Linked DNA regions of Homo sapiens. The main gene of each other region encodes a partner of the protein of the gene in region 2 in a complex. Each region holds a gene or a part of one and is shown on either strand. Other genes may lie near its edges.

Region 1 (7,024 bases), on a different chromosome or scaffold from region 2:
CTCTATTAAAAAAACAAAAAAACACAGATTCTTCTAGAAAATGTGGTGTCCCCACTGGCATCGATTGAATCTGAATTCTTACTAATACCACAAAGTGTCTCCCAAATTCCTTTTGAAGTCAATCCTGTGTTAAGGTTATCATGTAAACAAATTATTATTGCTGTCAAAATCCTGGGCCCGTGCCCAGAGGCAAAGGAAGCAAAGTACTGGCATGGAAGATATCTACAAGAGAGAAAGAGAAAGACCAAGGTGGCTAAAGATGAGACATTCCCATTGTCTACACTAAGAAGATCCCAAACCCTCTCAATCTTCCCCAGGCACTGATACTCACCTGACTGAGGTTGAAGGTCATGATGCTGTTGTCATCATACAGCAGGATGTTGATGGTATCTAATGCCCATGTGCTCTCTGCCAGGAGACCAGACTTGAGGGACATCATTACCCGCCATGCCTCCGGGGTTCCTGAAATAAACCTCCATGTCGTCTATCCACCAAGCCCAGGTTGGCTGGAGGCACCCCTAGGGCTGCCCCATCAGTGAAGCTACTCTGAAGATAACACAAGGTGGAAGGCAGTTTCTGTCTGGGAGATGAAACACACCAGCCCCTCATGGCTTCTAAGCTGTCTGTCTAGGACTTCATTGCATGGCAATGAAGGAGAACCTTTAGTTAGCTTATTTCTTCCTTTTCCAAAGTTCTTTGGTTCTATTTTAGTCAACACTGGACCAGATTCAACCTCATCCAGAATAGTAAGGTGGAGGGAACAATGGACAAGATGGAAAGGGGCAGATTAGGCAACCGAATGAGGAAGATCTCCTTACCAATGTCTTTCATTGTGAGCCGCCTCCTCTGCTTCAACACAGGCTGTGTGGCTTCAACAGAGCCAGGTGGGAAGGTGATATCCCGCCGAATCATGGGGGGCTGCACAGGGGCAGGTGCTATGTGCGAGGCAGGTACTGGGGGACCTGCCTTCTGCATTTTCATCCCAGAGTGCAGGAATGGAGACTTGCTAGGAGAGGTGCGGTTCTCCATTGGCCGGGGCAGGGGAGCAGGGCTGGATACCTGAGGAATGTGATTCTGCATGCTTGGTGGGGGCTGGTAGTTAGATGGAGGGGGCCTTGTCATGGGGGGCACAGGGGCAGAGGGACCATATGGGGGCTGGCGTGTGCCATGGGAAGGCCACGAGCCTTCGTGGTTGGCCCTCTGATCTGTGTGCAGCATTTCATCTGTTCGGTTCACGCCATGATAGGCGGGGCCCTGGGGGGCAGAGCCCGTGCTCTGCCTGTTGGCATAATTATAGGTCATGTCATTACGCCCCTGCCACATGGTGCCTTGCTGAGCAACCTCAGCTGATGCCTGTATGGGGCCGCCCATCATTTGTGGTGGCATGTTTTGCTGGGCATTGGTGCCAGGGGGTGCAGAGACACGGTCTCGGCCAAACTGGAATGGAAATTGGTTCTGGGGGCCGCCTGCTGGTCGGCGCTCAGTAGCAGCTGTGGCAGTGGCAGGATAGGCATTGCCATACTGGTTGTATACATCTTGCTGAGGGGAAGGCTGGGCAGCTTGTTGCTGGCTGGCAGGCTGGGGCTGGGCTGGGGGCAACTGCTGCTGCTGAGGCTGCCCCTGCCCAGTGCTGTATGGCACGCTGTACATCTCCCCTTCGTGCCGCTTGGCAGGAGGGCCATATGTGCCATCCATTGGCCGCTTGTAATTCTAAGGCAGAGACAAGCAGAGGGGAAGTTAATACTCTGCACTCAGGGACATAAAGCCCACAGATGCCAAGATGGCTACAACCAGATGCTTGGTGGACACAGACTCCAAGAAAACATGGGAATCACCTTAACAAATTGTCTTTTGAAGTTGTTTCCAAAAGCAACCACCACTCTTTCTTCCCTTCCCTTGCTTAAGTAGAAAAATATACAAAACCTAAAAATCAAAATAAGGTCTATTTCTAGCCCCTTCCAACTCCAAATAGAGAAGAGATTGAGGACGTGGCTCTTCAGGCAGGACTGGCCAGTCAGGTGAGAGAAGAATGCCAAAATATCTAAAGTGAGCTTCTTAGACTTCAACACGTTAGATTAGTTTACTAACTAGTTTTCAAGGCGAACCTGCATGCCAGTCCATTCCCAGCTACCCTCCTCACCTGCTGTTGCTGTTGATACATTGTAGTCTGCTGGCTGGGGAAGGGGCTGCCAGAAGGGGTGCCTTGGGTGGAGAACTGATTGCCATAGGAATCATGTCTATAGGAGGCAAAGAAACACAGGATTAGGGTGGGCAGTGGCGAAGCCTGATCCATAGCAGCACCGAGACCAGGCTTTACTCACCGTTGCTGCTGCTGCTGCTGCTGCTGCGGGGGGTAGCGGCTAGGAGAATACATCCCCGAGTCTGGGTTGGAAGGCATGAGATTCGGCTGTGGGGCCCCAGTGCTCATGTTTCCCTCAGGCCCTATTCCAGGCTCCGTCCTAAACAAAATTGGAGAGGCAGATTGAGCCCACTATAGCTTCAGGGTGCTGGGGGAGTGGACAGGAGCTGGGGTCATGCTTACCTCACTCTGTCATAAGGACCTCCATAGGGATAGTGCTGTCGTGGTCCCATCGCCACATTTCCTAGCCCAGGGCCGGCAGCACGACTGTAGGGGTCACCCATCCCGCCGTTGGGGCCCTGCCCTGAGGACATGAAGGGATCACTCCCTGGAGCTGAGCGTAGAAAGGCAAGCGGTGAACAAACTGGTAAGTTGACAAGCCTGGTAATCTACCCTTTGACCCAGGCCCTCTTCAGAGTTCAGGTTTGATCTCATTGTTTTCCAGACAAGTTCAAAACAGAGATCTAAAGAGGCCCCAACCAGCGAAAAGCATGTACTTATTAAGGGATGACAAGGTGAAGCCAAGGAGAAGACAAGAAAGGAGGTAAGGATGAAGAGGGGTAGTTAGGGCAGGAAATGCATTATCTCAGAGGATGGCTCCACAAGAACCCTGAGCCATTCTCAAGATTTCCCCCCATTTCACTGGCCCTGTCTTTACGAGCACAAGTTCAAATAGCAATCAGATCAGTCACCTTTCCTCATGCTGCCATAAGGATCCTTATTTGGCTCATAGGACATGCGCCCCATCATGTCAGAGGTATTCATACTGGGCTGATACCCAGGGTTTGGAGTCATGGAATTCCGCTTCTGGAATGTGGAGTCACTTCCATCATTAAAGGCATCCTGGATCCCAACTGAATTGCTCCTGCTCCAGAGTGAGGAAAACCAAGTAAACCACAAATAAACCAATTCCTCCAATATAACAAAGGACACGCAGGAGTCACTGGCTGGGAAGGCAGAGGCAAGGACCACCTTGGGCTGCAAGGAGTTCCCATGCACTTATCTTCAGCCATCCTCCCAACCATCTGCCCCTGCTCTTGGCCTTACCTCATGCCTGGCAATGGGGGGATCTGACTGTGTGGTGTGGATGCTGGAGTTGGTGGCTTTAAGTCTCCTCCTTCTGCCATGGAACTGCTGGTTGACTGGGGAGTCTGGGGCCCCTGCATAGATCCTGATCCCGCTGTGGACAGAGATACAAGTTGAGTAGTTTGCTTGGCATGACAGTGTTTAACTCTCACACAAACACACGAACGACCCAGAATCTCTTTGGGAAAGTTCTTCCTAAGGCCTTTAAAGCCTGATCACCCTTCTTAGCAGAGGATCTACAAGGCCAGGTCATAAAGACGGGAATCTGAGGGTTTTGTAGCTCTTTGTTTTTGTTTTACGTGTAGAAAAGAGGAGTGATGTGGCCATGACATCACCATGCTGGTGATTCCCTGAGTCATTGCCAGCTTCCCTGGCTATTTCTCTTCACTCCGCCAAAGGACCTTGTCTAACCTACTAAACCCTGTAATGCTGGTGCATGAGCTCCAGTCAGAGCCTCCCAAGTCCTGGGTGGGAAGGGGGTCCCAAATCTGGGATGCATTTTAGGAGTCTAGGAGCTCCTGTTCTAAAGCATCCAGCATGGTGTCACTCCTCAACTTCAAATGTTCTTCTAAGCTGATGAGTACAAAACTACTAGTAATTAATGTTTCCAATAGTTACCATTCCCAGCAGTAGATATCCCACTGCTGAGGCCTCCCCAGCTGATGAGTCATCTCAGGCACTCATTACACCCTCAGAGGTCAACACCAGGGCACATGTGTTTACACCCACCTTCCAGGCACCCTGGCCTTCTTCCCTCTCTAGGCTCACCCTAGGCCTCAGCCTCCTCTCAGAAAGGAGGGTGAGCAGAGCCACTCCCATCAGGGAGTTCCATTCATAACCCTTCCCCACTCCCTCCTTCCCATTCATTACCATCTCAGCTCCCTGGGGAATTCAGGGCTCTAGTCTGAGCTGCATTCTAAGGTGCTGACATCAATAGGCCAAAGCTCCCAGATGGCCCTGCCTTGCTGCCATTTATAAGTTCCACCGACTCCTCTTGTGCCCCTCCCATTCACCAGTTTACAAACATTTGGCAAGTTGTCAGCTGCACAACAAAAATTAAAACTTAAGAGCTGCCGTAGAGTACCTCCCAAGGGAGTTTCCACTGCCCACTCTCTAGTCAGCCAACCTGTTAAGCCCTGTGGTAGGGCAAGGCAGAGCACAGATCCTTGGCATATCCTGTTGGATAAGCCTCTTATTCATATCCTGAATAAGAGGCCAGGGCAACAGGCCCTCTCAGCCTTGGTGGGGCCGCTGACCCCATCCTTACCAGGAGAGGGAGGCTGGATCTTGGGCTGGGACTTCTTGGAATCAGCAGCTGCAAAGATGTCTGGGGGAGGGTCTTCTCCCCGTTCAATCTTGCATTCAAAGGCATAGAGACACTGGATATACTGCTTTTTCAAGGAGCTGGCAGCACTGCTTGATGTGCCCACATTGAGGTTGGTTGCAAGTTCCCGCCATTTTTTGTTCTTGTTGACCTGTATAACCAAACCAAAGGAGTCGAGGTATATCTCCCGCCTGGTTTTCCTGCCCATAAGCCCCAAGCCCCATCAGGCTGTAAGGTATTCATCTTTGTAGAACCACAGTTCTTAGGTAATTGAAAAAGTTAATCTTGCTTGGTGGATAGTCCACAAGAAGTGTTAAATCTGCAGCTGGCTTCATTTTACCCTCAGGATGTTCCACTGCAACTATCAGACTGTGCTTATTCACAACAGGGCAAATTTCACATTACTACTGGAACAGAATTCAGAGTCCGGTTTTTTAGTACGCTGCTAAAAAGTGGTGTACAAATCATCTGGATATCTAAATCCTATTTTATTTATTTATTTTTGAGACAGAAAAAATAAATCTCGCTCTGTCGCCTAGGCTGGAGTGCAGTGGCGTGATCTTGGCTCGCTGTAACCTCTGCCTCCCGGGCTCAAGCGATTCTCTTATCTCAGCCTCCCGAGTAGCTGGGATTACAGGTGTGCACCACCACGCCTGGCTAATTTTTGTATTTTTAGTAGAGACGGGGTTTCACCATGTTGATCAGGCTGGTCTCAAACTCCTGGCGTCAAGTCATCTACCCGCCTCAGCCTCCCAAAGTGTTGGGATTACAGGCGTGAGCCACCGCGCCTGGCCCTAAATCCTATTTTAGATGCACTAATAAAAACTAACATTTTATAAAATGGAGACTCATGATAATATCAGTGACCACCCTGCTTGACTTGCTTTGTCAAACTTGGGATTTACTCATATTTTTTTCTTGGGGTGGTGGCTCCCTGCAAATTTGACATTCTTGTGCCACTGCTCCCCTACATATCTCATTGACAAATAACCACAGGTCCCTTTCCCTTACCAGTCACTGTCCTGATGGTCCGGGTGTTCAGGGTCTTATTTATTTAGAGACAGAGTCTCACTCTGTCACCCAGGCTCGAGTGTAGTGACGCCATTTCGGCTCACTGCAACCTCCGCCTCCCGTGTTCAAGTGATTCTCCTGCCTTAGCCTCCCAAGTAGTGGGACCACAGGTGCCTGTCACCACACCCCACTGATTTTTATATTTTTAGTAGAGACAAGGTTTGGCCATGTTGGCCAGGCTGGTCTCAAACTCCTGACCTCAGATGATCCGCCCGTCTCGGCCTCCCAAAGTGCTGGGATTACAGGTGTGAGCCACTGCGCCTGGCCCGGGGCCTTATTATGACTTTTGTACCTCCCGAGCAGCCAACCTACAGTTCTGCCTCCTTCCCTCAGCTTCAGGGCACACTGACCAAGCCCATTCCCCAGATGCTCCCTACAATTAGTCTTTCTGCTCTAGCTGGACAGGTCTCCTTCTTCATGTATTCTTATGCTTATTCATCTACCATATGGTAAGCCTGTTCCCCCAAGGCCTGGGAACAAGGGTTTTCAAGTCCCTATACACAAAGGAAGTTCAATAGGTTGTAATGTCTGCTGATATGATACCTATGATACTAGAAAGAAGAGTTTAAAGAGGCACAGAGGGGGACAACCTAGAGGGGCAGAGGTGACTAGGAATACTTCTTAGAGTGGGTAACACCTGAGCTAAGTCTTCATGGTTGGAGATGGCCTTGGTGGGAAATATCTAGACTCTCTCCCATCTCCGTGGCATCTAGGCCAGTCTACTGGATTGGCCACTCTTCCACCTAAACCCTACTAATCCTTTAGATAAGCTCAAGATTCAGCTTTGCTTTCTTGGAGCCTTCACAAACTAACTTATAAATAGCACTCTTTTGCCCCTGAATTATCACTGCCTTTATAAAAGTTCAGTTACAATCACGGCATTTTAAAGGTTTGCATCCTTTTCCAATCTGGAAGACAGGCTCAGGCATTAGAATTCTCTCTGTACCTCATCCTAGGTTCAGTGAACCCTGAAGCCCACCCAATCAGAAGTGAGCGAAACCTAACCCAATGCTCCCTTTCCCTATAGACAGGGAAGGCTTGACTATGAGATCTGAGTATCAGGGAGAATGGCAGGAATATGCATGGAGTCACCTCAAAAGCCTTCCGTGGCTTTGCTTCTCATGCCAGTTATGTGGCAGTATGCACGTGTCTTATTTTGTTTTGTTTTCCTTTGTGGGGGAGGG
Region 2 (7,024 bases):
TTTGTAAGGGGCAGCCCAGACTCCTTTAAGCCCCTAATGGATGTGGATGCTGTGTCTAGATTTTCACCATTGCAAAGAACCTTGCTAAAAGCATTCTTCCAGCTAAAGCCTCCATTCAATTCCCCTGGGGTAGTAAGCCATTTGCAAGAAGAGAGGCGCCTAATGAAAACATCACAAATTCTTTTTGATGTGTTTTTTTATACTGAGTTGTGGAACAGGGTCCTGTACACCTGGCTTCAAGGCTGGGAGGCCTGGCTTGGACATGTGGTCAGCCATATCACGTCGTCCCCCTGCCAGCCTCAGTGTCCACATCTACAACACTTGGGGTTTGGCTGGAGAGAACATGAGAAGCCGAGGTGGCCCTTCCTTCTGGGTCTAGCAGAGCATGGGTGTCTCCAGTGTGGCATTTGCTCCTGGGGCTTCTTTATCGGGCAAGGGGACAAGGTCTGGCTTCCCGGAGCATCCCTGTTCCAGCCCCGTGTTGTGCCGGCCATGTGACTCACAGCTCCTCTCATTTTCATGAGTGTCTGGGTTTGACGAGAAATACATGTGCCACCCTGGTGATACGCCTCCCCAGCGAGGGTGGCCGGGCTTATTTCAGTTGGGGGAAATGGCTTTGCTGAAGCTTTGGGTGGGTGACGTCTGCTTAGGATGCATGTCTGTGCCCTTGAACCCGGCGCCTGGCCTGGAGGCGGGCGATGCACCTCCTGCCTTACCTGCCTGCAGGGTTCCAGGTTTAACATCCTGCGCCTTCTCTCCTGCCTCCTCCACACTCCAGGCTGGACCTGTACCGAGCCTCGGGTAAATTTGAGCTTCTTGATAGAATTCTTCCCAAACTCCGAGCAACCAACCACAAAGTGCTGCTGTTCTGCCAAATGACCTCCCTCATGACCATCATGGAAGATTACTTTGCGTATCGCGGCTTTAAATACCTCAGGCTTGATGGTGAGTATGAGCCAGTGAGGCGTTTCTTACAGGGTTTTGTTGTTGTGGCTGCCACAGAAGCTCCTCACTGGCATTCCCTCCTGTGAGGCAGGGTGAGGCCCAGGCGCTCTGGGTCCAGTGGCCAGAGTGGGCCTAGCCACAGGCTGAGCATCTTGGGCACTCGGCACTGGGACAGGCCGTGGATTGGACGCCGGGTGTCCTGACTCCTAGGCTGACAGTCTTTCCACGACAATGCTGGGCGCACTGGGGAAGGGGTGCCCTGTGCACTTTTAGCTGGAAGTGACAGAATTCCATACCATGTGGACACAGGAAAGAAAGCACCAATAGGCTTACATAGCTCTAACCCCAGGAGGTTAAACATCCTTCAGGCACAGCTGGATCCAGGCATGCAGGTGATATTGGAGAGACTTTTCTCCAGCTCTTTGCTCTGCCTTCTTCCATCTTGGCTTCCTTTCCACCTGCTCAGTGTCCCCAACAAAGGCAGGTCCCAGGCTGGCTCTCATTTAGCTGCTGTGAGCCGCATGCCCATCCCTGGGCCATTCGTAGCAGCCCAGTGACTGCCACCTTGCCACAGGTCAGGCCTGGACCTGGAATCAGACTCTGTGGTGAGCACGGAGGGAGGGAAGCAAGCACTGCCAGGCAGGAGCAGCAGCTGCCGTAGAGAGGCTCTCAGCCCAACCCCCTGCCCTGCGGTCCCTGATGGGAAAGGTCACCGCCTGTGTTTCTGCGCCTGCCTGCCCCAGCACACGGGAGCTCAGGGAGGAGAGGCTGTGAGATGCCGACAGGGCACGTGAGACATGTCTGTCAGTCCCAGTGGGTCAGGGAGCCCTGGAGTGAGTTCTTCGTGGGAGTTACTAGAACTGGGCTTACGAGAAACACGAGCATGAGCTGCTGAGACAGACACGGCTCAGCCAGTTTGTTGTTCCCTACACGACCTCCCAGAGCCTTTGTTGAAGCTCCTGTGCAAGGTCTGTCTCACAGCAGGACACCCCAGACCTCCATACCCCTTGTCCCGTTGATCACTTGGACCTGTGTTTGCTGGGCCAACCTGCCCAGGTGCCACCCGGAGTGTGCCCTGTGTGTCCCTCCAAACTGCAGGTCCTCCCCGGGGTTCTGTCCAGGACCACTCTACAGACACGAGTCTGTTGCAGGGGTCTCCCCGGCTTGCCTTCTTCCTTGGGGGCTTCCCACTTTCAGCTTTGAGGCTGAAAACCAAAATCCTTCAGGGTCCTCATGGCCGGGCCACCCCCCACCCTTTCCTCTCCTACGGTCTCTCCAGCGGCTTCTCCCGTCCTCGAGAGGGCCAAGGCTTCCTGAGGGCCATCCCGTCTGTGTCGTGTCCCTGACTCCCCCAGGAGAGAGCCTGGTTCCCACCCATCCCAGTGCCCTTCTGCCTACTCCATAAGGACAAGGACTTTGGTCAGTTGAACTACAGATGTGTCCTCTGCATGTGATGTGGTCATGGCCACAGGGCCAGAGAATCCATTGCGAGTAGAGGAAGGGTAGGAGCTCAGTGAAGTCTCCTGAGACTGCATCTCCCATGGGTGGGCTGGCATCTGGGAGCCGGGTGGCCCCTCACCTCAGCCCCTCCTCCGAGCTGGAGTAGCAGGGGCACATCTGGTGCCTGAGAGAGGGTGGGACGGCAGGTGGATGGCCAGGCTACTGTGGGCTTCTGCACCGTGCCTGGGCATGTGTAGGCTGGTGGCAGGAAATGGCCAGTTTTTATTTCTTCTTTTTTTTGAGACGGAGTTTCACTCTTGTTGCCCAGGCTGGAGTGCAGTGGCATGATCTCAGCTCACTGCAACCTCCGCCGCCTGGATTCAAGCGATTCTCCTGCCTCATCCTCCCTGGTATCTGGGATTACAGGCGCCCGCCACTACGCCCAGCTAATTTTCTTGTATTTTTAGTAGAGACGGGGTTTCACCATGTTGGCCAGGCTGGTCTCGAACTCCTGTCCTCAGGCGATCCACCCACCTCAGCCTCCCAAAGTGTTGGGATTACAGGCATGAGTCACCGCGCCCGGCCTGCCAGTTTTTATTTCATCACCAAAATGACTTCAGTGTTCAGGGGCACCTCTGTCCGAACTCCCAGCAGCGCAGGGAGTGTTGACATTGCCTTAATGCCCACAACGCTGAGGGCATCGTGGGTTGTCACCCAGGAGACCTGCTCTGGCTCCTTGACTTGGGTTTTCTGGGGCATGGGGACACTGATCCTGCCAGAAAGGACACGAGCCCCCTTTATAAGGTCTCCATGCTTTTACCGTAGAAGATTCTCTTTGTGAACCACAAAACTTTTTGAGACAGGGCTGAAGGCAGGTGCACCCACAGTCACTGTCCACCCACCCCCAGGTCCCTTGTGTTGCGAGCGGCGGTGTTGCCGGCATTGGCCGCTGTGTCTTCCGCTCCCCATGGAATGGCACAGGGTAGAGTAGAGGAGAGAATCCAGGGCTGTGGTGGTGGTGGCTGTGCTGACGCTGGACGCTGTGGCCTAGCTGTGGGCTGGGTGCTGGACTCTGTGCTCCAGGCCCACCTCCTCTAGTTCTCCCAGCGGGGCCTGTTTTCATTTCTGGGATGTGTGGAGAGACGTTTTGTGGTGAAACACTGGAAATCCAGTTATTCGCCAGTGGCCCACAGGCCCGTGTGGAGAGTGCGGAGCCAGGGATCTGGGGATGCTGGCAGGTGCTGATCCTGCTCCTGCTCTCAGAAGCAGGTGTTCCTTGGTGTCCCCACTCTACCCCTGAGGTCACCCCGCTGACCCTGTTCTCCTCTGTGCCCGTCAGGAACCACGAAGGCGGAGGACCGGGGCATGCTGCTGAAAACCTTCAACGAGCCCGGCTCTGAGTACTTCATCTTCCTGCTCAGCACCCGGGCTGGGGGGCTCGGCCTGAACCTCCAGTCGGCAGACACTGTGATCATTTTTGACAGCGACTGGAATCCTCACCAGGTAAAAGCGGGCCGGGCCCCAGGTCGAGGAGAAGGAAGGGGGTGCCTGCAAAACCTCGAGGAGACGGCCCTGGCTTGAGGGTCCTCCAGCCTCCTCCACATTGTCTTGGACCCCAGGAGCCGGGAGGAGCTGCACCCATATCTCCATAGGTCATCAGGGAGAAAAGAGGCGGGGTCCTCCTGTTTCCCAAAATACAAACAGCCTTTCCCTCTGATTGGGAAAGCAGTGTATAAGCCATCCGTCGGTTTGGTTTTTCTTAAATCTTGGAATGGCACCCATGAGGAGGTGGAAAGTATCCTGATCAATCTGCGCCGTCACTGTGGGGCGGCCCCTGCAGTGTGCCCTGTGAGCACACACACTGGCGCTTGTTCAGACACAATTGGGGGTAAACTCCATGCCACTTCGTTTACTTCCTCCTCTTGTTCCATAACCATGTACCCCTCATGGGCCTCGGCATCGGTGGATACCAGGTCATGCTGTTACATAGCTACAAGAATTTGAAAATGAGTTAAACTTTTCTCTGTGTTTCATTATAAGACTGATAAGTTCTTATTGTTTTTAACATGTAAACACCAGTGACAGTCAGGAGTCCCTTTTCCCTTCCTCTCCAACCGTGCTCTCTTCTGAGCCTCTGCCAGCCCATCTGCCTTCGCACATGTATGTACTGAGATTAACACAGATGCGGCGTGGCCTAGCATGTGCCTCTTCCACCAAGCAGTGGGTGTCAACCGCCGAGTGCACATCGGAAGCTACCCAGCCATCTAATCGGCCACCAGGCGTCCCGGCAGATGGCCACCCCTGGACGTCTGCTCTCAAACTCTGGTTGGCAGGCATCCGTCTTTTCTGTTGATCAGCCTGGTCACCAACCCAGCAGGGTCCCTCTTTCTCTCAGAGTGCTTGTGCAAACACCCTAGGTCTGCGCAGCCCTCAGACATGGGGTCGCTCCACCCCAGACATTGTCCTCTTCGTGTTCTGGTTGCTACTGCCAAAGTGGTTTCACTCCTACGCTGGGGTGTGAATGTACCCTGCCCTTCCCTGCAGCGTGAGGGCAGCAGCGTTCTCAGTGTGTAAATTGTCGCTTGTCTGATGGGTGAATGCCGTGGTGGTCACTGGTGGCCCCTTTTACGATCAGGCTGGGGTGTAGCTTCTGCCCAGACCCTGGTGACCAGCCAGTTTCTTAGGAGGTGGTTGAGTTGTGTGTCCCCGTTGGCAGGCCGGCAGCAGGCGGAAGCTGCACCTCAGGGCTGGGGGCGCGTTGGGGAGGGCTGGCCCTGCCAGGAAGTGTGCTGACAGGGCAGGAGGGCTGAGCGGCAGACACAAGGCACTCCTGGTCCCCACCAGCTGTGGCCTCTGCCACCCCATGGGTGCCAGTCTTAAGTTTCAGAGCATCACTGGTACTCACCCTGGTCCTGCAGCTCCTGGGCCCAGAGACAGGATTTCGTGTTAGCCTCCTCGTACTGTGCTGGGGTGATGATAAAACTAACAACCCAGGCTGGACGCAGTGGCTCACACCCGAAATCCCAACATTTTGGGAGGCCGAGGTGGGTGGATCAACTGAGGTCAGGAGTTCGAGACCAGCCTGGCCAACATGGCGAAACCCTGTCTCTACTAAAAATACAAAAATTAGCCAGGCATGGTGGTGCATGCCTGTAGCCCCAGCTACTCAGGAAGCTGAGGCAGAAAAATCGCTTGAACTTCGGGAGGCAGAGGTTGCAGTGAGCTGAGATCGCACCACTGCACTCCAGCCTGGGCGACAGAGCGAGACTTTGTCTCAAAAAAAAAAAAAAAGAAAAAAAGCCCATCCACGGCACCTGCATTGTTGGGAGCTAACTGCACCAGTCACTGGGCCACACTCCTGGTGCTTATTCACTCATTCGAGGTATGCAGTAGCCACGGGTTGGGCCCCATGTAGGCTGAGGGAGTTTTGAGGCTCACAGAGGTGAGACCTGGTTCCGGTTCTGTGTGCACTGTGAGAGTGGCAGGGCCCACAGCCAAACCAAGCACTGCCACAACACGGCCGAGCTTCGGCCCCCTGTTGTAAATGGTGCTCGACTGTGTAGGTCCACGCTGTGGGGAGCTGTGCCGCTGCCACGGGAGCTGCTTGAGAATATAATCCCCTGGGGGGTTGGTGCTTTCTTCCCGAATATCTGTGGGGTCCCAATAAGGTAGAAGGTGGCACTTCTGGAGGAACGTGATGAGAGTCCCCTTCCCCCGAGGGACACATGGCGGCCCAGGCTCCACCAGCTCTGTTTTCATGCGGCGGCAGGTCAGGCTGGGCAGAATTGTCAGGCCGAGGGTGGCACGCACAGCACACCTCTCCAGCTAGTGTCAGAGGCCACCTTCCCTTTTATGACCTCCTGGGCTCCTTTGGGACTGACTGGCACCTCTTCCCCCAGGACCTGCAAGCGCAGGACCGAGCCCACCGCATCGGGCAGCAGAACGAGGTGCGTGTGCTCCGCCTCTGCACCGTCAACAGCGTGGAGGAGAAGATCCTAGCTGCAGCCAAGTACAAGCTCAACGTGGACCAGAAGGTGATCCAGGCCGGCATGTTCGACCAGAAGTCCTCCAGCCATGAGCGGCGCGCCTTCCTGCAGGCCATCCTGGAGCACGAGGAGCAGGATGAGGTGAGCCCAGCACCGGCCCCGACCCCTCCCCAGCGTGAATGGTGGACGCGTGAGCGGCTTTCATTTTTGTTTTTTTACCTTTTTTGCACTCTTATTTTTTTTGCATCCCTTTGGAGTAAAGGGAGTGTGGGCTGAACGGAAAGAGGATGAGTACTTGCTTTTTCTTTGAAGTGGTTTTTTTTTCTAAACTGCTGGTGAAAGACGCCGGATTGACAGCCCTGGAGACTGAAGTCCTCTATTTATCCACAGAGCAGACACTGCAGCACGGGCAGCGGCAGTGCCAGCTTCGCCCACACTGCCCCTCCGCCAGCGGGCGTCAACCCCGACTTGGAGGAGCCACCTCTAAAGGTGAGAGGGGTAGTTCAGTCTCCATGCCCATTCAATCCTCGGCTTCTCGGCTGAGACGGCCAGCAAGGGCCCTGGTCCCACGGAGCGTGCGTGTGCGTGTGCGTGTGTGTGCCTTTCGCTGCCGTGTGGGTCCCCATCCACCGCAGCCGTGCCGGGACCACCAG

Evidence for each region.
Region 1: SMARCA4 (region 2) and ARID1A share a complex: the UniProt entries of both Homo sapiens proteins name them as parts of the neuron-specific chromatin remodeling complex.

What each region holds. Positions count from the first base shown.
Region 1 is NC_000001.11:26,769,015-26,776,038, reverse strand, and holds part of ARID1A (AT-rich interactive domain-containing protein 1A), read right to left. Parts: intron 4,921-7,024; coding exon 4,713-4,920; intron 3,540-4,712; coding exon 3,407-3,539; intron 3,228-3,406; coding exon 3,052-3,227; intron 2,694-3,051; coding exon 2,543-2,693; intron 2,460-2,542; coding exon 2,322-2,459; intron 2,238-2,321; coding exon 2,141-2,237; intron 1,711-2,140; coding exon 819-1,710; intron 463-818; coding exon 332-462; intron 1-331. UniProt on the Homo sapiens protein: Involved in transcriptional activation and repression of select genes by chromatin remodeling (alteration of DNA-nucleosome topology).
Region 2 is NC_000019.10:11,027,006-11,034,029, forward strand, and holds part of SMARCA4 (SWI/SNF-related matrix-associated actin-dependent regulator of chromatin subfamily A member 4), read left to right. Parts: intron 1-778; coding exon 779-945; intron 946-3,724; coding exon 3,725-3,888; intron 3,889-6,284; coding exon 6,285-6,512; intron 6,513-6,761; coding exon 6,762-6,860; intron 6,861-7,024. UniProt on the Homo sapiens protein: ATPase involved in transcriptional activation and repression of select genes by chromatin remodeling (alteration of DNA-nucleosome topology).